Regions from separate parts of the Homo sapiens genome. Here all the other regions are reported to be linked to region 1. Evidence: microRNA targets listed by miRTarBase, many of them from high-throughput screens and not tested one by one. Region 1 holds a microRNA gene; each other region holds the end of a gene's coding sequence.
Evidence for each region. The annotated mature microRNA hsa-miR-769-5p reads UGAGACCUCUGGGUUCUGAGCU and lies in region 1 at 4,215-4,236, shown strand. An mRNA with a match to its seed (bases 2 to 7 or 8) in the 3' UTR can be bound and repressed. Matches are read on the target gene's strand: a 7mer-m8 pairs with bases 2 to 8, a 7mer-A1 pairs with bases 2 to 7 and ends in A, and an 8mer does both.

Region 2: the mRNA of KLHL11 is a reported target of hsa-miR-769-5p. Seed matches in the 3' UTR shown: 8mer at 2,932-2,939 and 7mer-A1 at 2,956-2,962.
Region 3: miRTarBase lists ARHGEF3 as a target of hsa-miR-769-5p. The part of its 3' UTR that is shown has no 7-base or 8-base seed match.
Region 4: miRTarBase lists CRACD as a target of hsa-miR-769-5p. The part of its 3' UTR that is shown has no 7-base or 8-base seed match.

The regions. Positions count from the first base shown.
Region 1 is chr19:46,014,747-46,022,539 of GRCh38, forward strand. MIR769 (microRNA 769) reads left to right here and starts at 4,186; the gene lies at 4,186-4,303. CCDC61 (coiled-coil domain containing 61) reads left to right here. Exons shown (of 14, transcript NM_001267723.2): 6 at 303-513; 7 at 599-681; 8 at 1,308-1,477; 9 at 1,572-1,647; 10 at 1,948-2,087; 11 at 2,245-2,323; 12 at 2,501-2,558; 13 at 3,332-3,404; 14 at 3,544-3,870. The coding sequence ends at 3,641. PGLYRP1 (peptidoglycan recognition protein 1) reads right to left here. Exons shown (of 3, transcript NM_005091.3): 2 at 4,780-4,901; 3 at 4,407-4,673. The coding sequence ends at 4,492. RefSeq lists silencers at 545-839, 1,307-1,386, 2,117-2,176 and an enhancer at 6,915-7,793.
Region 2 is chr17:41,846,684-41,854,153 of GRCh38, reverse strand. KLHL11 (kelch like family member 11) reads left to right here. Exons shown (of 2, transcript NM_018143.3): 2 at 1-5,636. The coding sequence ends at 414. It overlaps KLHL10 (kelch like family member 10), which reads right to left. Exons shown (of 5, transcript NM_152467.5): 4 at 6,744-6,893; 5 at 5,770-6,221. The coding sequence ends at 5,847. Among named protein-coding and RNA genes, the nearest start is that of KLHL10, 13 kb to the right of the region's middle.
Region 3 is chr3:56,724,047-56,731,839 of GRCh38, reverse strand. It overlaps ARHGEF3 (Rho guanine nucleotide exchange factor 3), which reads left to right. Exons shown (of 10, transcript NM_019555.3): 10 at 2,218-4,420. The coding sequence ends at 2,570. Among named protein-coding and RNA genes, the nearest start is that of TASOR, 45 kb to the right of the region's middle.
Region 4 is chr4:56,326,191-56,333,983 of GRCh38, forward strand. It overlaps CRACD (capping protein inhibiting regulator of actin dynamics), which reads left to right. Exons shown (of 11, transcript NM_001393381.1): 11 at 1,454-4,419. The coding sequence ends at 1,614. It also overlaps the pseudogene RNA5SP162. Among named protein-coding and RNA genes, the nearest start is that of AASDH, 57 kb to the right of the region's middle.

The DNA of each region.
Region 1 (7,793 bases):
GAACTCACATGGCTGTGTTCCCACTCCTTCACCCGCACCAGGGGGAGGAGTGTGTGTGTGTGTCCTGTGCGTGGTGGGGTCATGTCCTCTTCGTGAGGTGCATGGGGGTGATGTGACCACATCCCTCCTCACACGTCGCAGGGGATATGATAGGACCCTGCCCCTCCCCATGGGGTCAGTTGAGACTGATGAGCCGTGTACCCCCTTCCGGGGAGGTGAAATGATGAGGCGTCCCACCCCCATGGAGTAGTGGGAATGGGGCCATGCCTCTCTCTCCAGCGCTCTCTCCGCGTCTTCCCCAGGGTGTCGCGCCTGGCGTCCGAGAAGCGGGAGCTGGAGGCGCAGCTGGGCCGATCGCGCGAGGAGGCGCTGGCCGGGCGCGCGGCACGCCAGGAGGCCGAGGCGCTGCGCGGGCTGGTGCGCGGGCTGGAGCTGGAGCTGCGGCAGGAGCGCGGCCTCGGGCACAGGGTGGCCGGCCGTCGCGGCCAGGACTGCCGCCGTCTGGCCAAGGAGGTGAGCAGCGGGGGCCCGGGGCGGCCAGCGAGGCGCGGACCTCGGCCTCAGCCTGGACCTCCGCGCCCCTCTCCCCTCCCGGCAGCTCGAGGAGGCGAAGGCATCGGAGCGGAGCCTGCGCGCCCGGCTGAAGACGCTGACCAGCGAGCTGGCATTGTACAAGAGGGGGTGAGAGCGAGGCCTGCCAGGCGCCTGGGCGGATGGGCGGGCCCTGAGGGTGTGGAGGCTGATGAGGCGGAGCCTAAGGGGGCGGGGCGGGGCCAGGTAGGGTGGAGGGGGCGGGGCTGAAGGGGAGGCGGGGCTTAGCGGACCCCGTCTGGAGTCCAGACAGGATTTGGGTGCAGTGGTTAGGAGGTGGACCCGGGCTGTGCGGAGATGCGCAGGCTTGGGGCGGCGTTCAGGAGGGACTGGGAAAGGGATCGTGCCCTAGGGTCTCCTGGTGCGAAAGGGTGCGGCGCAGCAGGTGGGATCAGGGTGAGGTCCGCTGGCATTTATGGGGTGGGTGGTGGAAAATTGGAAAGAGTTTCCGGGGAGTTGTGGAAGACTCCGGAAAGAAGGGTCTGTTGAAGGCGGTGTGTTGAAAGGATGTAGGGGAATGACAGAGGGGTGTTTTAGGGGTCCAATTGGGTGAGGTCTGGGGGGGAAGATATCGAGAGGGTCATGGGCCCAGGAGTGCACGTCTAGGAGTTGATGGGGTAGGCCTGAGGGTTCGGAGAAGGTGCGGTCGGGGAGGAGTCTCGCGATTGAGTTTGTCGGGGCGGGCGGGAAGCTGACAGCTGCCTCTGTGGTCTCAGGAGGCGGACTCCGCCGGTGCAGCCGCCCCCGACGCGGGAGGACCGGGCCTCATCGTCCCGGGAGCGCTCCGCGTCGCGAGGCCGCGGCGCCGCGCGCTCCTCATCCCGGGAGAGCGGCCGCGGGAGCCGGGGTCGGGGCCGCCCTGCGCGCCCCTCGCCCTCGCCCACAGGTCTGTGCCCCTGCCCTGCGGTAGGGAGGGGACGCACTGGCGCTGCCAAGGCCCGTCTCCGGACCTAGCCGCCTCCTCTCCCACGCCGTCCTAGGTGGTCGCGCGCTCCGCTTCGACCCCACGGCCTTTGTGAAAGCCAAGGAAAGGAAGCAGAGAGAGATCCAGATGAAGTCAGTGCCCCTTCCTCCCTCACCTGCCCCTGTCCCTGGCCCGTGCCCGCTCCCGGGCTCTCATCTCTCCACGCCACCATCAGTCTCCATCCCCTGCCACCTGCTCGCTTCTCGCCGGATACCCCGCCTGCTCTCCCTTCCGTCCGTCCTACCTCCTCGTCTGTGTTTCTGCGTGCTTTCCGCTCGTAGGCCTGTCACCTCAGGCTTTCGCTGGCGTGGCTGTGACCTTTAGGGGCGCAGTGACCCCCTTGCCTGCAGGAGTTGGGCGTACAGACCGGCGTCTCCTTTCTTTTTTCCCAGGCAGCAGCAGCGGAACCGCTTAGGCAGTGGGGGAAGCGGGGACGGTCCGTCCGTCTCCTGGTCTCGCCAGACCCAGCCCCCTGCTGCCTTGACTGGCCGAGGGGACGCCCCTAACCGCTCCCGAAACCGCAGCTCCTCAGGTAACTGGCCTGGAGCTGGGGGCTGCCGGGCTAGGCGGGACTGGGCGGGGCTGGGCGGGCTGGGAGGCACTGGGCAGGGCGGGCGGGCTGGGAGGGCCTGGGAAGCACTGGGCGGGGCCAGCGAGGGCCAGCGGTCACGCCCTCCGTCTCCCTCTAGTGGACAGTTTCCGCAGCCGCTGCTCGTCTGCCAGCTCCTGCAGCGATTTGGAGGATTTCTCTGAGTCGCTCTCCAGAGGGTAAAACTTGAACTTGGGAAAAGGATCGCCTCCAAAGGGTTTCTGGGGAGACTAGAAACAGTCTTTTGCAGGGAAATTGGGTGATGGAGCCTGGGGGCCTTGAAACCACAAAGGTCGGGGAGGTGGGAAGTACCAGAGCCTCCCCACCACTGGTCCTTGGTTACTCCTTTTTCTCAGGGGTCACCGCCGCCGTGGGAAGCCTCCCAGCCCAACGCCCTGGAGTGGGTCCAATATGGTGAGTAGAAGGGGCAACATAAACCACTGGAACACAGCTGCCCCCATTTCCTGTGATTCCTTCCTGGGGATCAGGTGCAGAGGCGACTCTGAATGCCTTTGGCAATAGGGCTTTTTTAAGAGTGCGTCTCGCTCTTTCAGGCTGGGGTGCAGTGGGGCAATTGTAGCTCACGGCAGCTTTCAACTCCTGGACTCAAGAGACCCTCCCACCTCGGCCTATGGAGTAGCTGGGACTAGGCTTTTTTGGGGGGGCAGGGTGGGGTTGAGACAGGATAAGGGGGTGGTATTGTCTCTTTATGTTGCCCAGGCTGGTCTGGAACTCCTGGCCTCAAGCCATCCTCAGCCTCCTACAGCGCTGGAGTTACAGGCTGGGCCAGCGCACCTGGCCTGGGAACAGCACGTTTTGAGAGCATTAGATTGGAGAAGGAATAATGAGGGGCACGTGATGCTCTTTAGGGCTTTGGCTTCTGACTGTCAGGTCTTGAAACCTGTCTCCTCCTCTTCCCAGCTGTATGGTTCAAGGCAGTTCTTTAGCCTCTCTGTACCTTAGTTTTTGTTTATCAGTTAACCAGGGTTGGTAATGGCATCACCTCACATGTGAGGTGAGGGCTCTGTGAGGACATTAGGAGGTTATTTTGCAGATAATGAATGGCCAGTAGGTGTCAGGCCTTATTTTTCCCCAAGGTCCTTAGGCTCAGGATTTCCAGTGGGATTTAGGGGGACAGAAATAGAGGGACGGTGGGTGACCCCCTTTCCTACCTTCCCCATCACCAGAAGTCTCCCCCCGTGGAACGCAGCCACCATCAGAAATCTCTGGCCAACTCCGGGGGCTGGGTCCCCATCAAAGGTGAGCCTGGGACTCCACATCCCCTCTCCCAGCCCCAGGACCCGTTGGAATGGTAGTGCGGGCAGTGGTATATTGGGCCCAGGAACTCCCTGGGGCTTCAGGCCCCTCACAGCCCCCATACCCACACCTGCTCTCACAGAGTACAGCTCGGAGCACCAGGCGGCTGACATGGCCGAAATAGACGCACGCCTGAAGGCCTTGCAGGAGTACATGAACCGACTGGACATGCGGTCATAACGTGGAGAAGGGGTACTACCCCTCCATCCCCCACCCACTTGCTGGGTATGGTGTGGGGGGTGGGGCCAGGGTGGCCTCCAGCCCTGCCCAGTCCCTGCCCTGGCCCCGTCCCTCCTGCTGCCCCTGGGGTCTCAGGTGTGTGAGGCCCTGACCCTGCCCTCTCCCCAGGCAGTGCATGCTGGGAGGGAGGATGTGTGCATTTTGTAAATAAACATATTTGCCCTGGGGACCCCTCAGCTTATGACTAAAGGGTGAGGGTGGAGTGGGGAGAAATGTGGAGGAAGAGAAATTGGGGGGTATAATTGGGACCTGTGTGTCTGTGCCTCGGAGGCAGATTGGGACTCAGGCCTAGGAAAAGCTTGTACACTCTCTAAACAGTGCAAGGGCAGACCTGGGAGGAGTAGTGAGCAGCCCGTCCCTAAAGGAGTCCAAGCAAAGTTTCTGCGCAGGATGCCTTTGGCTGTGTGGTGGGAAGGAGGTGTCTTGCAGCGTGGTTCACTGCCCAGGAGGACCCCCAGGACCCACTGTTGGTGACATCCCGGCCGCCTTGGTGCTGATTCCTGGGCTCTGACCTGAGACCTCTGGGTTCTGAGCTGTGATGTTGCTCTCGAGCTGGGATCTCCGGGGTCTTGGTTCAGGGCCGGGGCCTCTGGGTTCCAAGCACCAGTGAGGAGAGTGCTGGGAGGGGAAGGGGTGGGAGGGCTTTGGTCTTGTGGGAGGGAGAGAAGGAGGGGAGGTGTGTGGTGGGACCTGCTGAGGAACACATTTTGAGCTACATCTTTATTGGAGAAGGAGACAGTGGGGTTTTTGGCCATGGGAGGGGAGGAATGGGGTGCGGATCAGCAGGGCCTCAGGGGGAGCGGTAGTGTGGCCAATTCTGGATGAGGTGGTAGAGCTGGTTGCCTGGAGAGAGTGTACGCTGCACATCCCGGTGTCCTTTGAGCACATAGTTGGACCTCAGGGCTCCCTGAGCCACACCGCAGGCCAGTAGACCCTGGGCTGCCCGGATGGCCTGGGGTGTGGGCACCCGATCTGGAGGAGGCAGAGGTAGGAGTCAGGCAGGGGCTTCCCCGAAGGGGAAGTGATAGCGTAGGGCCCCGTGTCAGCCCCCATCCCAACTGGCTGGACAGTCACTCACCCATGTAGTTGCCCATGAAGCTGATGCCAATGGACATGGGGTTCCATAAGTGACCTGAGTGGGCACCCGTGAAGTTCCAGCCACGGCCCTCGTATACGAGCCCGTCTTCTCCAATCAGGAAGCTGCATGGGGAGGTGGGGGGGCTTGATGAGTGAGGGAGGGTTTCCCGAGGAGGACTCCTCCTCCTTCCTCCACTCACCCTGCCTCCGTTACTGCCGTGGTGCACACAACTTCCCCAGCATCCTTCTCACCCGTTAATTTCCCACGATAGTAACAATGACTGTGGTCATTTATTGGGCCCCTGCCATGTGCCAAGCACAGCTCTGCATACACCTTTTTCCATCCTCACAGCAACCCTGTGAGTCACTATCACCCCCGTTTTATATAGACAGAATCAGAGCGGTAGAATCACCTGCCCCGGGGTCACACAGCCTGTCTGGGGCACAGCTGGGGTTTTTAACCAGGCCTCCATGGTCCCCACCCATGTGATCTTGTGCGTTGCTCTCTCCTGCCTCCCTAGAGGATTTGTGGAAGTCCTGTTTTACTGAATCCTTGCAGGACAGCCCTCTGAGGCAGAGACTTTTTTTTTTTTTTTTTTTTAAGACGGGGTTTCACTCTTGTTGCTCAGGCTGGAGTGCAGTGGCGTGATCTCAGCTCACCGCAACCTCTGCCTCCTGGGTTCAAGTGATTCTCGTGCCTCAGCCTCCTGAGTACCTGGGATTACAAGCATGAGCCACCACACCCGGCTAATTTTTGTATTATTAGTAGAGATGGGGTTTCACCATGTTGGCCAGGCTGGTCTCGAACTCCCGACCTCAGGTGATCTGCCCGCCTTTGGCCTCCCAAAGTGCTGGGATTACAAGCATGAGTCACCGTGCCCAGCCAAGGCAGGGACTCTTATCATCCTCATCTTAAGCAGAGAGAGCAGAGACTCAGAAAGCGACATAATTTGTACAAGCTACTCAGAGCCCCCTGCCTCTCAGAACTCTGCCTTTGCCCCAGCTTGCTTCCTGCCCTCGGGGTCCACTGGGGGACAGGATCACAGACTCAAAGTTGGGGTCGTAACCAGATACCGACCCTGGAGCCCCAGCACCTGCCTCTTTGAGGTTCCCAAGCCTGGCAGCAGATCCTTAAGGCTGATTCATTCAGCACATCTGATTGAGCGTGTCTGACTTGGCAAATGGGAATGAACTAGAAGATCAGTGCCTTGGAGCTGCAGTATGTGCCAACTCAGCCCCCGCGCTCACAGTGTCATTAATGACGCACAGAATGTCGGAACTTCCGAATCTTGAGTCCCGAATCTGCTGCTTAGGAAGCCAGCTCCCAGAATCTGGCCCCAGTGATGCTGGCTGCTGGGACTGGCTGGTTATGGCCCTGCTGGTGATGCTGGCTGCTGGGACTGGCTGGTTATGGCCCTGCCATATTCCCGGAGCCTGGCATGATGGTGCTGGGGTCGGGGGTGGTTGGTTCTCCCTGGTCATTTGTTGCATGAATGCATCTCATTGAAACCTCAGCCACCATCGCCAAGCGGGTACAGTCAGAAGCCCCATTTACAGGTGAAGAAACGAGGCTCAGAGAGAGAAGGTGACGTGACATGGAAAGGGGATTCAGAACGTTAGAACCAGATTCGGAATCCTAAAAGCTGAGGGCCAGACAGCGGCTGCTTCTGTATGTGGTGATGTGGACCCGAGGCTCGGGCCTTCGTGACCTCATGGGAACACTTAGGATCAGAGCGCCTGAGTCTTGGAAACAAAATGTTGAAGTTGGAGTCTTTGATAAAATCTTGAACTGGAAGGGCTGGGAATACCTTTGGACACTTCTAGACTTCTCTGGGTGGGTTTTGTGTGTGTGTGTGTGTGAGACACAGCCTTAGGAGGTCCTGAGAACATGTGTCCCCTGGGTGGGGTCTATTGAAGTGGTCTCTGGGGACCTGCATGTTCCTCCAATAAGCTCTGCAGGAGATTCTGATGCTTACCTGGGTCTGAGAGCCTGCAGGATTGAAAGTTCCCTCCCTGTGGAAACCGTCAGGCTGGACTGCAGCCCATTCTAAGGAGGAGGTAGCTGGTAGGCGTGGCCCCGGACCTGCTTCAGCCTGCTTCAGCCGGCACCCCTTACAGTCTGTTCTCCCCACAGCAGCCAGAGGGAGTCTCTTGTACCTACACTAGCCCTGGTCCCTGCTCTGCGGGGGGAAGCCTCCCATGGCTCCCATCTCGGAGTAAAAGCTACAGTCCTCACTGTGGTCCACAAAGCCCTGCCTGGTCCTGCCCTTTCCTCATTTCATTCCGCTCGCCCGGCTGTGTTCAGCCACCCTGTCCTTCCCACAGGACCCGCCCACTCAACCCCGTTGGCTTTGCCCCCAGCACCCCCTGCCACCTGCAGGCCTCTGTCTGCTCCCCCATCCCAGAGCCAAGGCAGCCACTCTCAGGGAGGCTTTCCCTTGCCCCACCCTTCCAAGGAGCCTGTGTGGGTCTGGTCCCAGCCTGAGGTCACCCTCCCTCACCTCTTTCCTTTTATCCATCGCCTCTATCACCGTCTGAATTCACCTGTGGCCTTGGCTTGTTTCTCCCTGCTGGTCTTTCAACCCCAGGAGGCTAGAGTGGCACCGTTCTCCATGCCACATCTGGCACACTGCCTGGCACATAGTAGGTGCCTAATGGTAATAGCCCGTGGCTTTGCGGGCCCCCGTGTGCCAGGCAGTTCCTAGGTGCTTTGCCTGTATTGGCTCATATAAGGAGCAGATGGGCCGCGATTCCATTGACTTTGCCGAGGAGGAAGCTGAAGCCGGGAGGACCCGCCCCAGGCCTCAGCCAGCAATAAGATGAGCTGACCCTGGAACCCAGCTCCGCACTGAGTCAGCCTGGTTTTCCGCCTCCTAACAAAGGCACCAGGCATCAGGAAGGGGCGCCTTCATAAGGCGTCGCGGACACCTTGGTGTGTGTTAGGCAAAGCCTGCCCCTTCTTCCCGGGAGCGGGAGCGGGGCTTGGATTTCAGCCCATCCCCCCTTCTCACGCAT
Region 2 (7,470 bases), not on the chromosome of region 1:
GAAAACGAAGAGGCAGTAAGAAAAATTGCCAGCCAAGTGTCTGATGAGATCCTTGAAAGCTTGCCTCCAGAAGTCCTAAGCATCGAAGGAGCAGCCATTTGCTATTACAAAGATGATGTCTTCATTATAGGAGGCTGGAAAAACAGTGATGATATTGATAAACAGTATCGGAAAGAAGCCTACCGATATTGTGCGGAGAGGAAGAGGTGGATGCTTCTTCCTCCTATGCCACAACCTCGTTGTAGAGCCACTGCTTGTCACGTGAGGATCCCATACCGGTACTTGCATGGCACACAGAGATACCCTATGCCTCAAAACCTGATGTGGCAGAAGGACCGCATCAGACAGATGCAAGAGATACATCGTCACGCCCTGAACATGAGGCGAGTGCCAAGCTCTCAGATTGAATGCTAGGTTCTCTCAAGCGTGCCGATTAAAACTGTTACACCCGTTTCGTGAAGCTGAAGATACCCAGGCTGTTATTTAAAAAAGTATGTCGATAACTTATTTTCTACATGAACTGATTATTACCCCATATAAAGGAAATAGAGTTAAAAACTAAAGAATGGGAGACTCAGTTCAATACATGGTCATTTTGTTAGCTTGCAATTTTTGTCTTTGGTTTGTTTGTTTGTGCTAGCTAAATAAGATCTTATTAAGGACAAGTGGAAAAATCAGGTGTAGTTGCTTAGCTGTTTTCCTGCCAACGAGTTATGACTCCTTTGTCTTGAGGACTTACGTTTTGAACATGCTTTAAGCACCAATTTTATTTGCACATTTACTTTGATATTCTTTTTCATTTTTTATTAAATGATTGGTTTTGGCAAGATCTGACTTCTGCATTGAGCCCTCATCTGCAGGAGGCATGTGCAATAGTGAGACTGAAATTTGAATGAAAACACTCAATATTTCAGCAAGATAATTTGAGAATGTTTGCATTGATATTTTCTTATGTTTATCTAGAAATGCCAGTTTCCTTCCTAGAAGATGTGACTGATGAGAAATTTTTTACTGGCTCATGCATTTTTTGAATATTTTTCATTAGCAGCTGTTTATAGACTTTAAGCCTTCAATCTGAGGTGACGGTAGTTGGCAAAAGTATAGATCTTTAGCTAATTGACTAAATACAGAGCAAGTTACATGTGTGAACTTTGTTTCTCTAAGAAGAAAAGTATTAGTGTAGACTGGGAAATCAAAGGCATTTAAAATTTTTTCAACATTTTTTTCAGGAGTTGCAGGATTATTTGAGGATATGTTAATGAGTGTAAATAATGCCTATGACAATCGACACTCAATGCCTTCCATTTTAATTTTTGCTCTAATGCATATTATATAGAATCTTCATTATTCCTTTTCTCTTTTTTTTTTTTTTTTTGCTCATGTTGCCCAGGCTGGAGTGCAGTGGTGCAATCTCGGCTCACTGCAACCTCTGCCTGCCAGGTTCGAGTGATTCTCTTGCCTCAGCATCCCGAGTAGCTGGGATTACAGGTACCCACCATCACGCCTGGCTAATTTTTGTGCTTTTAGTAGAGACAGGGTTTCACCATGTTGACCAGGCTGGTCTTGAACTCCTGACCTCAGGTGATACGCCCGCCTCAGCCTCCCAAAGTGCTGGGATTACAGGCATGAGCCACCGTGCCCAGTCCATTATTCTTTTCTACAAGAAACTGTTTTTTTCCAAAATGGGAAGGAAGTCACAATTTAGAGAAATGTTGCTAAAGAGAAGCCTTATTATTTCTGATTGTTATATTTTATCCAGTTGCCCCACACTTTCAAACTTTGCCTGAGCCTAGGATACCAAATTTGGGTACATAATTTTGGCTTTTAAAGGTTTATGGGCTGGGCACGGTGGCTCATGACTGTAATCCCAACACTTTGGAGGAGGCTGAGGTGGGCAGATTTTGAGCCCAAGAGTTCAAGACCAGCCTGGGAAACATAGCAAGATCCTGTCTCTACAAAAAGTAGAAAAATTAGCTGAGTGTGGTAGCTGGCACGTGCCTGTAGTCCTTCCTACTTGAAGCCAAGGTGGGAGGATCACCAGAGCCTGGGAAGGTTGAGGCTGAAATGAGCTGTGATCATGCCACTCTACCTTGGGTGACAGAGAGACGGTGTCTCAAATAAAAATTAAAAAGATCACTGAAGCTATCTTTTATTTAGTTTTATACGTTATTCGAATTATCTTATGTCTCCTGAGCTTTATAAAAGTTAGCACTCAAATTGACTTTTTTTTTTTTTTGGGCCAGGGGATGGGGTCCCACTTTGTCACCCAGGTTGGAGTACAGTGGTATGATCTCGGCTCACTACAACCTCCACCTCCTGGATGCAAGCCATCCTGCCACCTCAGCATACGGAGTAGCTGGGACTATGGGCACGCGCCACCACGCCCAGCTAATTTTTTTTTTGTATTTTTGGTAGAGATGGGGTTTCTCCATGTTGCCGAGGCTGGTCTCCAACTCCTGGGCTCAGGAGATCCACCCGTATCAGCCTCCCAGGGTGCTAGGATTAGGTGTGAGCCACCACGCCCGGCCTCAAAATAACTTTTTTTTTTTTTTTTGAAACAGTCACGCTTTGTCGCCCTGGCTGGAGTGCAGTTGCGCAGTCTCAGCTCACTGCAACCTCCACCTCCCGGGTTCATGTGATTCTCCTGCCTCAGCCTGCTGAGTAGCTGGGATTGCAGGTGTGTACCACCACGCCCGGCTAATTTTTGTATTTTTAATAGAGATGGGGTTTCACCATGTTGGTTAGGCTGGTCTCGAACTCCTGACCTCGTGATCCGCCCACCTCAGCCTCTCAAAGCGCTGGGATTACAGGCATGAGCCACCATGCCCAGCCCTCAAATTTACTCTTAATGCTCAGTTAATATAAAGGATTCCTAACAGTTTACAATGTGGTTTTCTTGTTTTTGTTGTTGTTTTGGTTTTTTAAGATGTGAGGTCTCACCTTATTGGCCAGGCTGGTCTCAAGCTCCTTTCCTCAAGCAATCCTCCCACCTTGGCCTCCCAAAGAGCCACCTGTCCAATGATTTATCCTGTTTCTTAAGAACTGTCTTTACCTTCTTAGACATTTTGTCATACCATTCTAGAAGTCAAATTCCAAGTGCAGTGATTTTTTTTTTCCCTAGTCCATTATAGTTAATCTTCTTGTTAGTGATCAAATACCAAAAGAGAAAAGCACAACCAGAAATTTTGGCTATTTGCTGCAAGTTGTAGGTCTTGGGCTCTATACTAAGAACTTGAAATTTTTAAATTAGTATCCCTGCCTAGGTGAAAAGTTTTTAATAAATGTGTTGAAAATCAACTTTAAATCCATTTAATTTAGACTGGAGTGGGCGTGAGAAACTGCAAGTCTATTTCTACATATAAGGATATATTATTATATTGTCCCATCCCACCACTACCTTTTTCTCAATTTCTATTTCTTTGTAGTTATTTTAGTAAAAGCCATTTGGATTCTGAGAAGCACTAATTCTTAGCTGTGATAGGTCTATGCAAGTAAGACAGAATCATTAAATGAAGCTCACTAAATGAAGTTCTCATTTCTCTCCAACAGACTGTGCTAGCAAACTTCGTTTTCTTGATTGTATTTAAATAATTTAGTATCTCACTACGATAATAGTTTTTAACTGGAAGGGTGTGATGTGTTTTTTGTTTTTTGTTCTCAGAGTTGTCTTCTGAGATAATTATTACCAAGTCATTTGTGGGGTTGTGTTTTTTTCACATCATGTGACAGAAATTATAACTCATAAGATTTAGGCATAATCTGGTTTTAAAACCTTGATTGAAACTGTTGTTTTTTAACTTAGCAGGCAGCCTAGGCCATGGCTGAAAAGAAGGGGTAAGTCCTTCATTGCATGATGATGTGTGCAGGTTTTCCTGATTTTCTAATTTTTATTTTTGAATTCACATGTGTAATTTCACATCAATAACTTGTGTTTCTGAAATATCCTAACTAACTTGTTAATAAGGAAAGAAACCAGATTTGCTTAAATCTGTTCAAGGCTGACATTCTGAAATTCTAAACTGGAAATAACTTCCCAGAGTATTTGGAAAGGTTCTAAGTACAAGGATCAGGCCTAAAATAGCTCCTTGGGAAAGAAATTTCCTTTTTGATGAGAAAACTTAAAATATTGTTTTTGGTAATGTAAGCAGTTAAAAACATGACTTTAGAAAGACAGCTTAATGCGTATTCAAGCAAACCTTTGTTTTGTTGCTTTTGCTTTTGTTTGTAGAAGAGAGAGGAAGTTATTATACCAAAAAGTAATAGTATATGTAACTTTGAGTGAGGCTACTTATATCTTAGAATGGGTATCCTTGAACTATATCTACCCCACCATGGCTTAAAAAAATCAGTGGTATATATTGAGAATGTCAGTCATGAGCTTAGTGTTTAAGTAACACATCCCACTTACAGTTGTTTGCATGATTAGTCTTGTGTATCATGATGTTCAACTTTGCTTTTGCTGTGCCAGTTCAAAAATATCTTTTTTGCTAAAAACTCTTAAAATTCATGACATAAGTTTTGTTTTGATCACCCGGTTTTATATAGTATTTCTGGGACCAAAAAATTTAAATATACCTTTTTAATATAAAACAGAAGTTTGAAGCTGGAAAGATAGTGTTTATGGAAGATTTGTGTGCTTTTGTGTTTTTTAAACCCGTCAGGCTGCTGGTAAGGCAGTTTCTAGGGCTCACTTTTCCTCCTTACCTCTTGACTAGTGTAGCATGTGGTATGTTTAAAATATTTCATTTTCTGCTTTGTAATTCTAAAGTCAACACTATACTGTATGTAGACAGGAGAGCTGATTTGTATATTTTAGTTATTTGGTCTAATCAAGCATAACTAAAGGGACTTCTTTTTTGATACTTTTCTCAAATTAAGTTTAAATATAGTATACGGGCCACATTTCATGTCTTTGAAAGTGTTGTACATTACTGTAAACCAAGTACTCTGTCTACACCAGAGGGTGCTTTAACTGCAAAATATTTGAGAAACAATTCAGTCTCTCAAACATTTTGGCACAGTTCATCACTCCAGTTTGTTACTTTCTTGAGAATAGTCCATTTTTTGTTTTTGTTATTGTACCGTATGTTCTGGTCATTGGAAACAGAACAGCTCATAGTTGGGTGATGTAATATAATAACAGTAATATAACCTAGTAGTCATTTTGCTTCAAGTAATTTAATTAGATAGCAAAATCACTGCGGTTTGTTTATTACACTTGTAGGGCTTTTTATCTTACTCAGTGACCATCACTACGAATGTCTTACATTGAAGCACAGACTGCAGAGCACTTGTTAACTTAGTCCTCCTGCATAATGCACTCGTGAAAAGTAGTGCTTGCTAGGTGTTTGAAGATTTTATGATCCGTGTGCTTGGGCTCGTTGAGTTATTTGTAAAATAAACATTTAGTTTGAGTTGATGCAGTAAGTTTTTTGGACTAGTAGTATCCAGGTCCCTACTCTACTGAAAATATAATCTTCACTATCTCCCCTTAACTCAGAGGAGATGTAGCATTTAGAACACCTTGAGACATGACATTGTAAAATAGCTTGTTTTATGTTCCTGAAGCTATCTTGTTCTCTGTTAAAGCTACTAATTGTCTCAGTGTAAGTTTTAAATAAACATATTTCTTTAAAGCTGGTTTGTACTGTGTGACTTTTTTTTCTTATTTATGCACTGTCGGATATAATTGCTTTCTTCCATCCCTCCTACTCCCTCATTCATCCAGCCATTGGCTCTCTTAAGTTGAACATTTTCCAGTACTCTTCAAAGTTTAAACACTGCATTTTTTTAAAAAAAGAATTAATTCTTATTGCTTAGACTTTTTATTAGCTAAATGAAGAGGCTCATACAGGTAGGGTACTTGTCGAAGCAGAATATTTTACTTCATCTCGCAGTGCTAATCCTGGGAAGTTGTCCCGTCTAGCTGCATATTCCTCAACATTGGCCAGCCCTGGTACTACACAGCAGCTCAGAGCACTGCGGTATATACTCATGTCATGAGCATCATACCACTCATCGGTCTTTTCATCATAGCACTCAACATTAAAGGTGGTGGTAAAACCATTAAAGCCACCCACCACAAACAAGAGGTCATCCACCACCTCGATGCCAAAATTGCTACGAGGATTAAACATAGTGGGGATTGTGCGCCAAGTGTTAGCCACAGGGCTGTAGGCTTCGGCACTCCTAAGTCGATTAGCTCCATCAAAGCCACCTACCTGTGGATAGCAAAAGAAACACGGTTGACTGCTAACCATTGATTCTGTTCACTGAGGAAGCCCTTGTTGGGGGTACCAGTGATCTCATAACTCCCTCTTCCATTATCTTCCATGAAAAAAAGCTTTTCAGCCGGGTGCAGTGGCTCACGCCTGTAATCCCAGCACTCTGGGAGGCCGAGGCGGGTGGATCACAAAGTCAGGAGATCGAGACCATCTGGGCTAACACAGTGAAACCCTGTCTCTACTAAAAATACAAAAAATTAGCTGGGCATGGTGGCGGGTGCCGGTAGTCCCAGCTGCTCGGGAGGCTGAGGCAGGAGAATGGCATGAACCCGGGAGGCAGAGCTTGCAGTGAGCCGAGATCCTGCCACTGCAGTACAGCCTGGGCAACAGAGCGAGACTCCATCTCAAAAAAAAAAAAAGCTTTTCAAATACTTACCAATAGTAGCATAAACCCATTTACTAATACAAAATCTAGGGGTAATGTGTTTTTTGTGTGTGTGTGGTACTAGATAAACTTACCGCATATACATGTTCTCCATAAGCAATCACGCCTATTCCACTCCTCCTGCTTCTCATGGGTGCTATGACTGTCCACTGATTACTTTCAGTGTTATACACTTCTGCTGTGAACAGGCACTCGTTTCCATTAAACCCACCACATATGTAGACCTGTGTGAAGAGTTCCAAGATTATTAAAATTCCCACTCTAGGGAGTAGAAAGAAAGGATATGTGTGTGGTGGTAGTGGGCACTTAATTCCAGTCTGTACAGTCTGAATTTCTTTTTTTTGTATGTGCATGCATTGCTTTTTATTTATTTTTTAGAGACAGAGTCTCGCTCTGTCACCCAGGCTGGAGTCCATTTGCACCATCTCTGCTCACTCCGCCTCCTGGGTTCTAACAATTCTCCTGCCTCAGCATCTGGAGTAGCTGGGACTACAGGCGCACACTGCCACGCTCCGCTAATTTTTTGTATTTTAGTAGAGACGAGGTTTCACCGTGTTGTCCAGGCTGGTCTCGAACTCCTGAGTTAAGGCAATCCGCCCCTCTCAGCCTCCCAAAGTGCTAGGATTACAGGCATGATACACTGTGCCCAGCCTATTTATTTTTATTTTTTGAGATGGAGTCTCACTCTGTTGCCTGGGCTGGAGTGCAGTGGAGCTATCCCGGCTCACTACAACCTCCACCTCCTGAGTAGCTGAAATTACAGGTGTGTGCCACTGTGCCTGGCTAATTTTTGTATTTTTA
Region 3 (7,793 bases), not on the chromosome of region 1:
AAGAGACATAAGAATGGTCAACTGGAATGTGGATTCATCTGTAACATTACTCAGTGGGCCTAATTTAAGACTTAATAAACAAATTAACTAAAAGAAGCCAAGATAGCAATATCTATCGAGTATCTAACATGATACTCGGTGAAACAAGCAGGTAACTTCCTTCCCCTATGGAGCTTGCATTGTGATGGAGGAGAAAGATGATAAACAAATGAATACTCCAGGTGTTGTTAAGAAAACTTAAAACCCGGTAAGGGAATAGGAAGGGATAGCAATAGGAGGTCTGTTTTATTTTTATTTATTTATTTTTTTGAGACAGAGTCTTCCTCTGTTACCCAGGCTGGTGTGTGGTGGCGTGATCTCGGCTCACTGCACTCTCTGCCTCCTGGGTTCAAGCAATTCTCGTGTCTCAACCTTCCAAGTAACTGGGAGTACAGGGGCTGGCCACCACACCTGGCTAATTTTTGTATTTTCAGTAGAGACAAGGTTTTGCCATGTTGGCCAGGCTGGTCTGGAACTCCTGACCCCAAGTAATCCACCCACCTCAGCCTCCCAAAGTGCTGGGATTACAGGCCCCCGGGCCCAGCCTGGAGGTCTGTTTTAAATGAGATAGGGAACACTTCTCTGAGAAAGTAACGTTTGAGCTTCCTGGGTTAACATAGGCATCATACTGTCAAAGTAATTAACATGTACTGCCTTCTCCCTACTGATCAATCCCTCTACCCTAGGAGTAGGAGTAGTAGAAATAAGAGCTTATGTTTCTTGAGTACTGACTATGTGCCAGGCATTGTATAAGCATTTACATGTATTACATTTATTCCTCATAACAACCATATAAAGTAGGTTCTTGTTTTCTCCATTTTACAAGTTAGAAACTAAGATACAGAGGATTTAAGGTACTTGCCCAAGATCAAAGGGTGGAGCCTAAATTTGAAGGACGGAGAATAGCTTCTAGCCAAAGATGGCTAGCAGTAAAACATTTTGGCCTCCTTTCCCTCTGTTGCTTAGCCTCTAAGCCATTGGAAGTGGTGGTGGTTCCCAGTCTACTGGCTGCAGGGTTAGTGCAAAGGGACTGACTGCAGATGCTTCTGTGAACCAAGCATTGCATGTGGCACGCAGGGCCCTTTAAATGTCCATTATATTGTTGTTATTAGATTAAATAGGCCAGGCACGGTGGCTCACGCCTATAGTCCCATCTTTTTGGGAGGCTGAGGTGGGTGGATCACCTGAGGTCAGGAGTTCGAGACCAGCCTAGCCAACATGGCAAAACCCTGTCTCTACTAAAAAAAATACAAAAATCAGCCAGGCATGGTGGTGCATGCCTGTAATCCCAGCTACTCAGGAGGCTGAGACAGGAGAATTGCTTGAACCCAGGAGGCAGAGGTTGCAGTGAGCGGAGATTGTGTCACTGCACTCCAGAGCAAGACTCTGTCTCAAAAAAAAAAAAAAAAAAAGATTAAATAAAATGTCTTCCATATTGTGGACTACCATTTTTTTTTAAATGCAGATGGCTCCTGTTGAGGTAATTAAAATGTAATTTCGTTTGACAATGAAACCAAATTTGTCTACATATATCTTCTCCATCATTGGATACTAAGTGTATAGATACTCTCATATGGAGAAACATGGGCATGTTTTAATGTTAAAAAGAGCCTCTTAAACTGAAAAAAGCTCCAGCTTGGTGTACTTGTTGAAATTACAGATTATGAAACGACTTTTAGATCTTCTGAATCAGAATCTCTAAAAAAGGGCCTGGGGATTTATTTTTATTGATTTATTTTTATTTTTTGAGAAAAGGCGTCACTATATTGCTCAGGCTGATCTCAAAATCCTAGACTCAAGCAGTGCTCCCACTTCAGCCTCTGAGCGCATCTGTCTTTTTAACAAGCTCTCACCCCAAGGGATTTTGTTATGCAGCCAGATTGGGTCACCAGTACTCTGGGCTCCCCTAAATCACTTGACTTTGTGGTTCCAAGATGATCTCCACCTGCGGGTTTCTGAGAGCGACGAGGGCAGCTGAACGCTAGACCTGTGTCAATCCCATCTCCCTGATGGTGGCTGCAGGGTGGAGCTGAGCCATGCCCCAGATCAGTGGGAAACGTTTTGTTATCAGCAATACCTGCCATGGATTCTGGGGTTTAGTGTCACTACGTGTGTTCTCTTTGGCCTGAGGAAGGATCTGTCCATTGACTTTGTTTTTCATGTGTTTTTCCTTTCTAGTTAAAAACTTCTTCAGAGTCAGTTTCAAAAATGGATCCCAAAGTCAGACCCACTCGCTACAAGCCAATGACACTTTCAACAAACAGCAGTGGCTTAACTGTATTCGTCAAGCCAAAGAAACAGTTTTGTGTGCTGCCGGGCAAGCTGGGGTGCTTGACTCCGAGGGATCGTTCCTAAATCCCACCACCGGGAGCAGAGAGCTACAGGGAGAAACAAAACTTGAGCAGATGGACCAATCGGACAGTGAGTCAGACTGTAGTATGGACACGAGTGAGGTCAGCCTCGACTGTGAGCGCATGGAACAGACAGACTCTTCCTGTGGAAACAGCAGGCACGGTGAAAGTAACGTCTGACAGAAGCATGTGCACTTCGGGAAGCAGGCCTGCATCTTACCTGTACAGTATTTGCATTCCACAGATGGAACGGTTTGGAGAAGCACTTTTTCATACTTTTGTGAAAGTATACATGTTGGCCCAGTCTCTCGTATCTGTACCTTTGTCCCTAGTACTGTAACTGCCAATCTGTCTGTGTAAGCTGGAATCTGTGGCAACTATTACCCTGTGTTGTATTTCCCAAGTGTCTGGATGGATGGAGAGGTACTCAAACAAGTTACTTTCAGTTGTCCTGCTGGATTTTAAAAAAATAGAAAAAGAATCTCAAAACTACTGTTTTACATAGATTGTTTGAAGAGTCCTTCCTCTTGTGCTTCTGTACCACTTTCCCAGCTCTTAGATGTGGTAGCTAAAGGCACGGAATTTAGACGGCCTTGTAAATAGGGCATGAGGAACTCATCTGTGTATTGGGATGGTATTAGAGAGAGAATCAGGAAAGACCAACTCATGAAGTGAACTTGGTTTGATCTTACTCAACTAGAAAGCTTGAAAACATCCCTGGGGATTCTGAAGGCTTAATTTTGCAAAGGAGGATGCATTGTCTGAACTTTGCAACTTCATCCAGTGCAAGTTTGATGCAAGAATGTATTAGGACATAAAATAGAGGCTGACCTTAAAAGGGCCAGGACAGAAGCGGCTGCCAGCTCTGAATCTTTAACTGAAATGCACATGGCACCAGGAGGTGTCTCTCATAGTTGGTTGCTAGCCTAAAACATCAGAATAGAACCCAAAGGGCTTAGGAAGGCCTGCCAGGATAACAAGAAGGCCCTGTATTCATTGTGTTTCATCTGCCTAGGCCTACTCATTATTTTAGAGAATGAATGAAGCAACAAGGAAGAGAGACCATGACTCTATCGATGACACTGTTTATAGAAACACAGGAGAGGAAGAATTTGGAATGAAAAGCACTTCGTCAGAACCTTCTGTGGGAGCCATTGAGAGAAAAGCATGGTCCAGTGCCTTCTGAGAAAGGCCAGAGCTTTGGGCTTTCCTGCTCTGCTTTTGGGTCGTCAATTTGCCATCTCTGGTTCTGTGCTATAATCAGAATTGTAATTATGTTCTCCAGAGGCCAATTTCATTAACTCTGATTAATTAGAATCAGCTAGCCAGATTAGTAACCTCTTTGTCCAGCCTTGATTTACAGTGCAGGGTAAAGTGCAGACCTTAAAAACAGCTAAGTACCTAGAAGAGCTCCCTGCAAGTGTAAATATTAAGGATGACCTGTGCAAAATTATACCCACACCAGCACTAGTGGTAATTATTCTAAATTATTGCCAAAAAGTTTTTTTTAATCTGTCTTTCAAGTTTACAGAAAAGAAAGCAGTAAATGCATTGATGTCATTTTATTATGTACATATATCATGTGCATTCAAGCTGTGTGACAAGATATATCAATATAAAAACAAGGTATATACTTTATTATTTTTTGAAAACAAGGATATTGTGATCAATTTTACCCTGTAAAACATATTTCTGTATTTATAGGTCTTAAACATGATGAATTTTTTCTATTACAAGTTTATTTAAAACTGCTTTCTCAAGTCGTTATTGATACAGCAAGTGAACCTGCTGCAGACAGAAGCAGAGGAAAGCCAAGAACAGCCTTTATTGGTGAAGAAAAGAATGAATGATTCTTTGTAGGCGCCATCAGCCACTTTTAGAAGCCATCAGCCAGTGTGTTGGGAAAAGAGGTTTGTCAAGTGTTGGCCTATGGGAAGGTGGTCAATGAATGTTTTGATGAAATGAATGTTTTTGTATAATGGCCTTAAACTTTTCTGGAAGTATTTCAAATAAATTACATTATTAAGTCATCCTCCATGTGTACAGTGTTTGTCCTACAAACAAAATACAGGTTTCAGCTGTGTTCCTGGGGAGGTTCTTTCTGAAATTTTTGTTTGTGGTTCCTGAATACAAACTTTAAAATAGGATGCAGATTGATACAAATGCTTTTATTTGATCTATCAAAACTTTCACAGAACTCATTTTTTTTTTCTTTCTTTCTTTTGAAACAGGATCTCACTCTGTCACCCAGGCTGGAGTGTGGTGGTGTGATCATAGCTCACTGCAGCCTCAAATTCCTGGGCTTATGCAATCCTCCTGCCTCAGCCTCCCAAGTAACTGGGATTACAGGTACACACCACCACATCTGGCTAATTTTTAAATTTTTTGTAAAGATTGAAGTTTCACTATGCTGCCTAGGCTGGTCCTGAACTCCTGGCCTCAAGTGATCCTTCTGCCACAACCTCCTAAAGTGTTGGGATTACAGGCGTAAGCCTCTGAGTCTGTCCAAGAACTCATAATTCTAAAATCTGTTTTCTCAAGCATTCTCTATTCATTCACTTATTTATGTGTTCACTTTTAATAACTCTATCTGGAATCCATACTATGTATAAAGTCAAGTGGTAAGTCATAGTTGTTATAGAAAAGAAATGTTGAATCTCACTGCTAATATAGGTAACTGTTGAGGAACTTGAGGCTAAATAAAAGAAGGCAAATTTCACTTTGAAATTCTTACTGGAATTTCAGTCTACTTTAATTAAAATGATTAGTACTCTTTCTAGTCTGAGCACAGTGGCTATACCTCTAATCCTAGCAGTTTGGGAGGCCAAGGCAGGTGAATTACTTGAGCCCAGGAGTTCAAGACCAGCCTAGGCAACATGGCAAAACCTCATCTCTACAAAAGCACAAAAATTAGCCAGGCTTGATGGCATGTGCCTATAGTCCCAGCTACTCAGGAGGCTGAGTCGGGAGGATCCCTTGAGCCTAGGAGGCAGAGGTTGCAGTGAGCTGTGATCACACCATTGCACTCCAGCCTGGGTGACAGAGTGAGAACCTATCTCAAAAAAGAAAAAAAAGATTAGTACTCTGTCCCACAATGAGTGAGGTTTTTTAGATGAAAAGGCTAAACATTTTTAAGCTGTTAGTAGCCAATTCTCAATAGCACATTGGCCCAATAAGGCTGGTAGTTAGTCTTATCTTTACAATAAGCTCTCACCATTTTCTTTTTTTTCTTTTTCTTTTTTTTTTTTTTTTTTTTTTGAGACAGTCTCGCTCTGTCACCCAGGCTGGAGTGCAGTGGTGCGATCTCAGCTCACTGCAAGCTCCACCTCCTGGGTTCATGCCATCCTTCTGCCTCAGCCTCCCAGGTAGCTGGGACTACAGGCGCACGCTGCCACGCCCGGCTAATTTTTTGTATTTTTAGTAGAGACGGGGTTTCACCGTGTTAGCCAGGATGGTCTCGATCTCCTGACCTTGTGATCTGCCTGCCTCGGCCTCCCAAAGTGCTGGGATTACAGGCCTGAGCCACCACGCCCGGCCAGCTCTCACCATTTTCTTTAACATACTGTTAATTCCCAAATTTGGCAAGATATTCACATAAATAAATATAAGTCCAAATTTTTTCCCAAATGCAAAGTCGCTTCTCCTAATTTTTTTCTTCCTCCTCCTCCTCATCTTTTTTGTCCGTCCTCTTTTCTCACTGCTGCTTTGGCTATTCCCTCTGTTTTTCACTCCTATAATTGTACTGACTGTCAATGCTAAAGGATGTATCTTACAGTATATTAGAAGATGTTTGTACTGACATTTTGTGGGTTAGTACAAATGAGTGAGGGCTAAATGGTTTTTCTTCAGTCAATTTTCAAGATGTTATTTCACATACAACTAGATGTAATCCTTGCAGTCTAAATGAAAACTCATAAGCAATGAACAGAGCCAGAACTAGCAATTTTCTGTAAAATTAGAGCATGGTTTCAGCTTCTGGGTTGTGGTCACCGCCACTGACTGCTTTAGTTTCCATTCCCAGCACAGTCTGCGGCAGCTAAGAATGCACAACTCTTCATAACCACAGCCCTGTTTCAACAAAGACTGTGTGGCTGCAGGAAACTGCAACCCACCATCTTGGTGAAGAGCCTGTTCAACTTTCCATTTACATTCTGTCCATGTCCGTTTTTTACTAATTCTCCCAAAGCCTGAGGACTCTCAAAGATTTGGCAAAGAAACTGTCTGGCCAATCAGTTTCACTCACCTGGTTCCCCTTGGCATTGAGGAGAGAAGACACTGAATACCCCCCCTTATTGATGCAGCTGATTCAATTAATTCACACTAGCTTGTTTATTGACAGAATTCTAGAACTACACTATTGGAAGGGAAGAGGGTTACCCAAGCCCAAACCTACCAGTAAAAATCTGACAATCATCAAAATTTAAAACCTTGTCCGCATGAGCACACAGTGAGAAAAGGTGACCGTATTCACTGTACCTGAAGGGTATTGAGGGAAACAAGTTGGAAAAAAAAATGCTCATGACATCATATCTCCTTTCTCCAGGCTTGGTTCATATATCAGTCAGCTGCACAGACCTACCTAGTCAAAGCAGTTTTCAGTTGACGTGAGGGAATAGCAAGGAATTAGAAGTCATGCACTGTATCTTTAAGAGCTAATCACTTAGCCTAGGAAACTGGACATGCATTCCAAAGCTTGTCCACATGCAAACATACCTAGGTATTAATGAACTGTGCTCTCTCATCTGTGAAAGGTTTGAAAATGACATCCTACAAGTGTTTTATTCTCTGTTGCCAGGGACACTGGACCCTTCAAGCCCATTTAAATGTGAGACTGTATGTGAAATCACTTTTTAAAAAGATACTAAGAGCTAGTAGTTTTCATTGTTATTTAATAATCACTTTTAAATTTGTACATGTTGCCCAGGCATGGTGCCTTATGCCTGTAATCCCAGCACTTTGGGAGGCCGAAGAGGGCAGATCACTTGAGACCAGGAGTTGAAGATCAGTCTGGCCAACATGGTGAAACCCCGTCTCTATTAAAAATATGAAAAATTAGCTGGGCATGGTGGCAGGCGCCTGTAATCCCAGATACTCAGGAGGCTGAGGCACGAGAATCACTTGAACTTGGGAGGTGGAGGTTGCAGTGAGCACAGATTGCACCACTGCATTCCAGCCTGGGTAACACAGTGAGACTCTGTCTCAAAAAATAAAAAAAAATAAACCGTACATGTGAAATTTCTCAAAAGTGTGGCCTTGGCCTGGGTCTTTTTCATTCGTTGTACTATATACCTGGAGAGACTTTTCAATCCAGATAATTTGGAATTTTTTCTTGTATTTTTTTTTCTTACATATTTTCATTCCCACAATTTTCTATTTTCTCTTTCAGGAATTCCAGAAAGAGAG
Region 4 (7,793 bases), not on the chromosome of region 1:
CGTGAGCCACCATGCCTGGCCCAAAGCTTTATATTTGAAAACCACTTTAGAATGCTGTGTAATTTCTTAAGAACCGCAGGCAGGCATTATGTCATTTGATTTTACTTATAGGAATTAAGGGTTCTACCTGTTAGAACCAGAAAGAGAAAGAGTGAGAAAAAGAGAGAGAATGAGTTTCTTTCAAAATAAAGTGAAAGCCCCAAAGTCAAAGAGGTCAAATCTTTCTCTGCCTGATTTCTCAGAAGTACTAAAGGATTAATGCAACTCAAGAGTGGCTCTAGCTTAATAAAGCAAGTCTTTGTTCTGAAGTATTTGTCTTCTCAGTCAGTATTTCCTGAGTTCTAGAAGCATATGTGTAAGCCATTGCCATAGGCACTATTTATGACTCAAAGATAAGACAAGCACCCTCTCACATTAAGAAGCCTATACACTCTGATAAAGTGATACGGTGCAAAGAACTGTGAGACAAGGATGAAAGTCATGGGAGCTGGCAGGATCTGTGAGACTCAGAGGTAGAGGCACCCAGTGGATGCTTTTGTGGGGACGGTAGCTTTTTTTTTTTTTTTTGAAGCAGAGTCTCTCTCTGTCACCCATGCTGGAGTGCAGTGGTGCGATGTCGATTCACTGCAACCTCTGCCTGCAGGGTTCAAGTGATTCTCCTGCCTCAACCTCCCAAGTTGCTGGGATTACAGACACCTGCCAACAAGCCTGGCTACTTTTTGTATTTTTAGTAGAGACAGGGTTTCACCATGTTGGCCAGGCTGGTCTCGAACTCCTGACCTCAAGTGATCCTCCCTCCTTGACCTCCCAAAGTGCTGAGATTACAGGCGTGATCCACCACGCCTGGCCAGGAAGGTAGCTTTTAACCTCACCAGATCCAGTCGGCTGGGTTGATCTTTTTCTTCATGGAATTGACTGGTTATCATGCAGGCATAGCTTCTTTATATAGATTAGGCTTCTGGAAATTCTTTGAAATTAGAACTGACTACTTTGGTTGTTGTAATTCTGTGTGCAAGAGATATAAACACATAGCTTGCTTTCCTTCATTCTCCTCACTGAGGGAGTCCAGGAATTTGCCTCTCTGTGTTTCACTGGGTTTTCTTTTTTCAGTCTCACACTTCTGATAAATCAAAATATGGCTGGGGTGGGGGGTGTTGGAGAGATGTTCATCAAAGGATACAAAATTTCAGTTAGATAAGAGGAATAAGTTCAAGAGACCTAAGAGAGTAGATTTTAAATGCTCTCACCATAAAAATGATAACTGTGAGGTTTTGTATATTTTAATTAGTTAGATTTAGCTATTTCACAATGTATACATATTTCAAAACAATGTTGTACATGACAAATACAGTTTGTCATGATAAATACATAGTTTATCATCTGTTAATTAAAAAGAAAATTTGTAGTGTGGCTGTGAACTTACTTTTTCCTTTTCCTTCAAAACAAAATCCAGTGGAGATCTCCGACTCGGCTCCCCCAGCGCCGCTGGTAAAAGAAGTCACCAAGAGGTTTTCCACCCCGGATGCTGCCCCCGTGTCAACAGAACCAGCCTGGCTGGCTTTGGCCAAAAGGAAAGCAAAGGCTTGGAGCGACTGTCCACAGATTATTAAGTAAAGAGTGACTCTCACCCATCCCTACTGCCAGTTATTGGCTCCTCTCTTGCCCTTTTTATTTATTTATTTTTTATATGGGGTAAAGAAATCAAGCTAGGGAAAAGAAGCATGTTTTATAGGCTCCAAAATAATGTTTAGAAACTGAACTGGTGGTGTTCATTGTAAAGAGTGGATTTGCACAACCCTAGGTCCTGGTGCCTCGAGCTCCTCCTAGTTCTCAAGAGAAAATTCCGTCCACAGGACCACATGAAGCAAAATCTCTAAGCTAAGAACTCGTGAGAGCCTGCCATGCCCATTTCATGGCCTTGCACACACACCCACCCACACACCATTCAGAACATGTACTTTTGCCAACCTTTGGTAATGGTTTTTTGATTCTATGCACTAATTTTCTTTGTCCAAAACATTTACTCTACCATATGTCTGGGAATGTTTATCCTTTCTACAGTAATGGTGAAAGGATCATATCTAGCTAAAAGCAAGAACACCCATTCTCCTGAATGCAGTGAGTAATTGGGAATCACAAGGAACATTCTGGCACCCAACTGTGCCCATCTTAGTTTTCATGAGTTTTCCCCACTCTGAAGCTGTAACCCAGAAGGCACATCCATTCACATTTTTACCGCACTGTGGATTCATAGTGTGGGGCCCTGTTATTCCAATACCCTCCTTAAGGACATGTGAAGCATTTGGCCCAGTTGGCTCCCAGGGAACATTTTAATTTAATGTAGTGAAGAAAGACAATTCTAGATCAGAGCTACAAGTTCACTTTCTGTCTCTGAGAATCTCCATCTAGGGCAGTAGTTCTTATGATGTGTAGGCTCCCTCCTAGGGCCTACTCAATCAGAGCCTGTGGGGACTGGGCCAGGAATATGTATTCTGGCAAAAACTCTTCAGGTCAGTTCTGATAGATCCCAAAGGTTAAGAACTGTGAGAAACACTGATCCTAATGCAATCTAATTTTTCAGACTTCGAAGGGGAGGCTCATTCACTCAAAAAGCAACAGTGAGACAGGAAAAATAATAAAACAACCCCCCAAGCCAGCCATTTATTACAAGAAGCAACAGGTTATTGACATTACATGTTTGAAAATTCCCTTTGGTCTTTAGGGAAAATAAACAGGAAGCCAAGATTTGGAGCCTTTGTAATAAGGACTTCCTGCAGAAAGTCTTTTCTTTACTATAATTGAGTAATTCATATTTAGAGTCACATGTCCAGTAGCATTTCTAATTTTGAGCATTCACCTTGCTACCTTTAAAAAACATCTGAGTTTTAAGTGGCCTTTTTATCATCATACACATGTGCATACAAAGAAGGGACTTGGCAGTTTAAAAGCCACATATATTCACTTTTATTGCCCTAAATTTACATGAAACAGACATACTGGCAAACTCACATATTGCTGGTGCTAACCTTATATTTCATAGTGTTGGCATATTCCCCTTTTCTTAGATTCTTACTCCGAAATATAGGTACACATCCTTTGCTCTGTGCAGAGGGAATTACATCCTTTTTCCTCTCCTACAAAAACATGCTTTATTAAGTATCCATCATTACTTTCCTTTATGCTCGCTCAATATGCAATGTGCTGTTATTCTACCATGTACCTTAAATAAAGGATGATGGCAAAGTTATTTACCATGTAGAAACCATTTTCTTTCTAGAAACAATAGCTCAGCCTCACTGTAGCAGCTGGCATGTGTGGTCAAGTGGATAGTTGTACTCTTGCAAGTTGGATTTAATATCATATATACTGGACCTTCAGACTGTTAAAAATCAATGTAACCTTTTTTTATTGCTATGGCAAGCAATTAGTATTTCACTGCACGTCTTCCATACTAATGTTCATTTCTAAATCTTATATGTAGGCATTTGTTAGTTCCAATGATTTCCTCACTAATATAACACTTTTTAATGGGAATCTTTCCACCTACAGCCCTGGAATGATAATGCTACAGTAATTCTTCTGAATTGACTTTTTCTTTCATCCTGTCAGCTTTGGACAATATCCCAATTATGGCAGGGAACAGGTGGGGAACTAAGATCAGTTACAAAAAGTTGTAGATGTGTCAACTTTGTATTGGCTGGGATATCACTGTGCCCAAACAAAACAGGCGAAATACCTCAGTTAAAATTTTTCCATCAAAGTCTTTAAAAGAAGAGTATACTGAAGAAAGGGCAGTCACAATACTTACTTCTAACAGCTTCTAAAGGGTACATGTTTAACATTTCATTTCAAAATCACCCCAAATTTGCACTAAATACCAATGAAGTGTTATTTTGCTTTAGTAGTCTTCTGAGCAACAAACTATGGGGAATTCTGTAAAAACATATAAAAAGTTCAAGACTTTTTTTTTAAATGAATGATCACTATGTTAAATGCAAACTTTTTTTTTTTTTTATTTAAACAAACATACACTTCTCCTGGCAAGGTTATAGATGATTAACCTCTGTTCATAGACTTATATATAAAACTAGAGGGTTTTTTGTTTACTTTTTTAATTTTTCAAGTGCAATTGTTTCTTACACAGACATTATTACTATTAAATTATCATTTAGCCAGTTATCTGCAAATATATAGTATGTATTGTCTCTTCTTGTGACGTTTAGTTTAATTGCTTATTTTAAAGCAGAAACATTAGTTACAAGTGTCTTACAATATTTTTACCAACAGTAAAGTAGAGACTTAATGAAAATACCTTAGTGTGATTTTAATATAATTTGCATATTTTAGTTGTATAAAGTTTTAATGTAAAATGTCCATTATTGAAGGGAAAAGATCTTTCAATAAAAAATACCCACGAGATCTTCGGCACTGATGGAATTTGATTTCGATGACCAACTGCAAAACAATCTCATTATATTTACATAACTTTTGTTGAACAAGAACAACTTTAAACTGTTTTATTACATTTTTTTCCTAGGTATTTTTAGAGAAAAATAATGAACGGGGGCAAATAAAATGTTTGTCTCAATCCTAAATTGGAATTGAATGGTCTGGGTCTCAGACAAAAGGATTGTACAGCCACCTCACAGCATGGGCTACTCACCAGCAGCAGCAGCAGAAGCAGCAGCTGAGAGCACGTGAGAATTGCAGCTTATGGCCACACATCAGACATACTGACTTAAAGGGCCAGACCCTGGTGAAATGAAAAGTGAGTTAGGCATGTGAGCACTTGCCTTGGCTTCCAGAAAACTAAGTAATCAAGAGAAATACTATTTTGATGCAGTATTTTAAAAAAATCAAAATTAATGCAAAAAAAAAAACCCATTGCAAGATGAGCAAAAGATCAAATTTTTTTTAGTATGTATAACTTGATTTAATTTTATTTATTTTTAAAATATTTTGCATATTTTTCTTAAACCTACGGCACTTAGTATTCCAAGGAGGTCTCCCATCTAAGTACTAACCAGGCTTGACCCTACTTAGCTTTTTTTTTTTTTAATTTAATTTTATTATTATTATACTTTAAGTTTTAGGGTACATGTGCACAGTGTGCAGGTTAGTTACATATGTATACATGTGCCATGCTGGTGTGCTGCACCCATTAACTCGTCATTTAGCATTAGGTATATCTCCTAATGCTATCCCTCCCCCCTCCCCCCACCCCACAACAGTCCCCAGAGTGTGATGTTCCCCTTCCTGTGTCCTTGTGTTCTCATTGTTCAATTCTCACCTATGAGTGAGAACATGCAGTGTTTGGTTTTTTGTCCTTCCGACAGTTTACTGAGAATGATGATTTCCAATTTCATCCGTGTCCCTACAAAGGACATGAACTCATCATTTTGTATGGCTGCATAGTATTCCATGGTGTATATGTGCCACATTTTCTTAATCTAGTCTATCATTGTTGGACATTTGGGTTGCTTCCAAGTCTTTACTATTGCGAATAGTGCCGCAATAAACATACGTGTGCATGTGTCTTTATAGCAGCATGATTTATAGGCCTTTGGGTATATACCCAGTAATGGGATGGCTGGGTCAAATGGTATTTCTAGTTCTAGATCCCTGAGGAATCGCCACACTGACTTCCACAATGGTTGAACTAGTTTACAGTCCCACCAACAGTGTAAAAGTGTTCCTATTTCTCCACATCCTCTCCAGCACCTGTTGTTTCCTGACTTTTTAATGATTGCCATTCTAACTCGTGTGAGATGGTATCTCATTGTGGTTTTGATTTGCATTTCTCTGATGGCCAGTGATGGTGAGCATTTTTTCATGTGTTTTTTGGCTGCATAAATGTCTTCTTTTGAGAGGTGTCTGTTCATGTCCTTTGCCCACTTTTTGATGAGGTTGTTTGTTTTTTTCTTGTAAATTTGTTTGAGTTCATTGTAGATTCTGGATATTAGCCCTTTGTCAGATAAGTAGGTTGTGAAAATTTTCTCCCATTTTGTAAGTTGCCTGTTCACTCTGATGGTAGTTTCTTTTGCTGTGCAGAAGCTCTTTAGTTTGATTAGATCCCATTTGTCAATTTTGGCTTTTGTTGCCATGGCTTTTGGTGTTTTAGACATGAAGTCCTTGCCCATGCCTATGTCCTGAATGGTAATGCCTAGGTTTTCTTCTAGGGTTTTTATGGTTTTAGGTCTAACGTTTAAGTCTTTAATCCATCTTGAATTAATTTTTGTATAAGGTGTAAGGAAGGGATCCAGTTTCAGCTTTCTACATATGGCTAGCCAGTCTTCCCAGCACCATTTATTAAATAGGGAATCCTTTCCCCATTGCTTGTTTTTCTCAGGTTTGTCAAAGATCAGATAGTTGTAGATATGTGGCATTATTTCTGAGGGCTCTGTTCTGTTCCATTGATCTATATCTCTGTTTTGGTACCAGTACCATGCTGCTTTGGTTACTGTAGCCTTGTAGTATAGTTTGAAGTCAGGTAGCGTGATGCCTCCAGCTTTGTTCTTTTGGCTTAGGATTGACTTGGTGATGCGGGCTCTTTTTTGGTTCCATATGAACTTTAAAGTAGTTTTTTCCAATTCTGTGAAGAAGTCATTGGTAGCTTGATGGGGATGGCATTGAATCTATAAATTACCTTGGGCAGTATGGCCATTTTCACGATATTGATTCTTCCTACCCATGAGCATGGAATGTTCTTCCATTTGTTTGTATCCTCTTTTATTTCATTGAGCAGTGGTTTGTAGTTCTCCTTGAAGAGGTCCTTCACCTCCCTTGTAAGTTGGATTCCTAGGTATTTTATTCTCTTTGAAGCAATTGTGAGTGGGAGTTCACTCATGATTTGGCTGTCTGTTATTGGTGTATAAGAATGCTTGTGATTTTTGTACATCGATTTTGTATCCTGAGACTTTGCTGAAGTTGCTTATCAGCTTAAGGAGATTTTGGGCTGAGACAATAGGGTTTTCTAGACATACAATCATGTCATCTGCAAACAGGGGCAATTTGACTTCCTCTTTTCCTAATTGAATACCCTTTATTTCCTTCTCCTGCCTAATTGCCCTGACCAGAACTTCCAACACTATGTTGAATAGGAGTGGTGAGAGAGGGCATCCCTGTCTTGTGCCAGTTTTCAAAGGGAATGCTTCCAGTTTTTGTCCATTCAGTATGATATTGGCTGTGGGTTTGTCATAGATAGCTCTTATTATTTTGAGATATGTCCCATCAATACCTAATTTATTGAGAGTTTTTAGCATGAAGGGTTGTTGAATTTTGTCAAAGGCCTTTTCTGCATCTATTGAGATAATCATGTGGTTTTTGTCTTTGGTTCTGTTTATATGCTGGATTATGTTTATTGATTTGCGTATATTGAACCAGCCTTGCATCCCAGGGATGAAGCCCACTTGTTCATGGTGGATAAGCTTGTTGATGTGCTGCTGGATTCAGTTTGCCAGTATTTTACTGAGGATTTTTGCATCAATGTTCATCAAGGATATTGGTCTAAAATTCTCTTTTTTGGTTGTGTCTCTGCCAGGCTTTGCTATCAGGATGATGCTGGCCTCATAAAATGAGTTAGGGAGGATTCCCTCTTTTTCTATTGATTAGAATAGTTTCAGAAGGAATGGTACCAGTTCCTCCTTGTACCTCTGGTAGAATTCGGCTGTGAATCCATCTGGTCCTGGACTCTTTTTGGTTGGTAAGCTATTGATTATTGCCACAATTTCAGAGCCTGTTATTGGTCTATTCAGCGATTCAACTTCTTCCTGGTTTAGTCTTGGGAGGGTGTA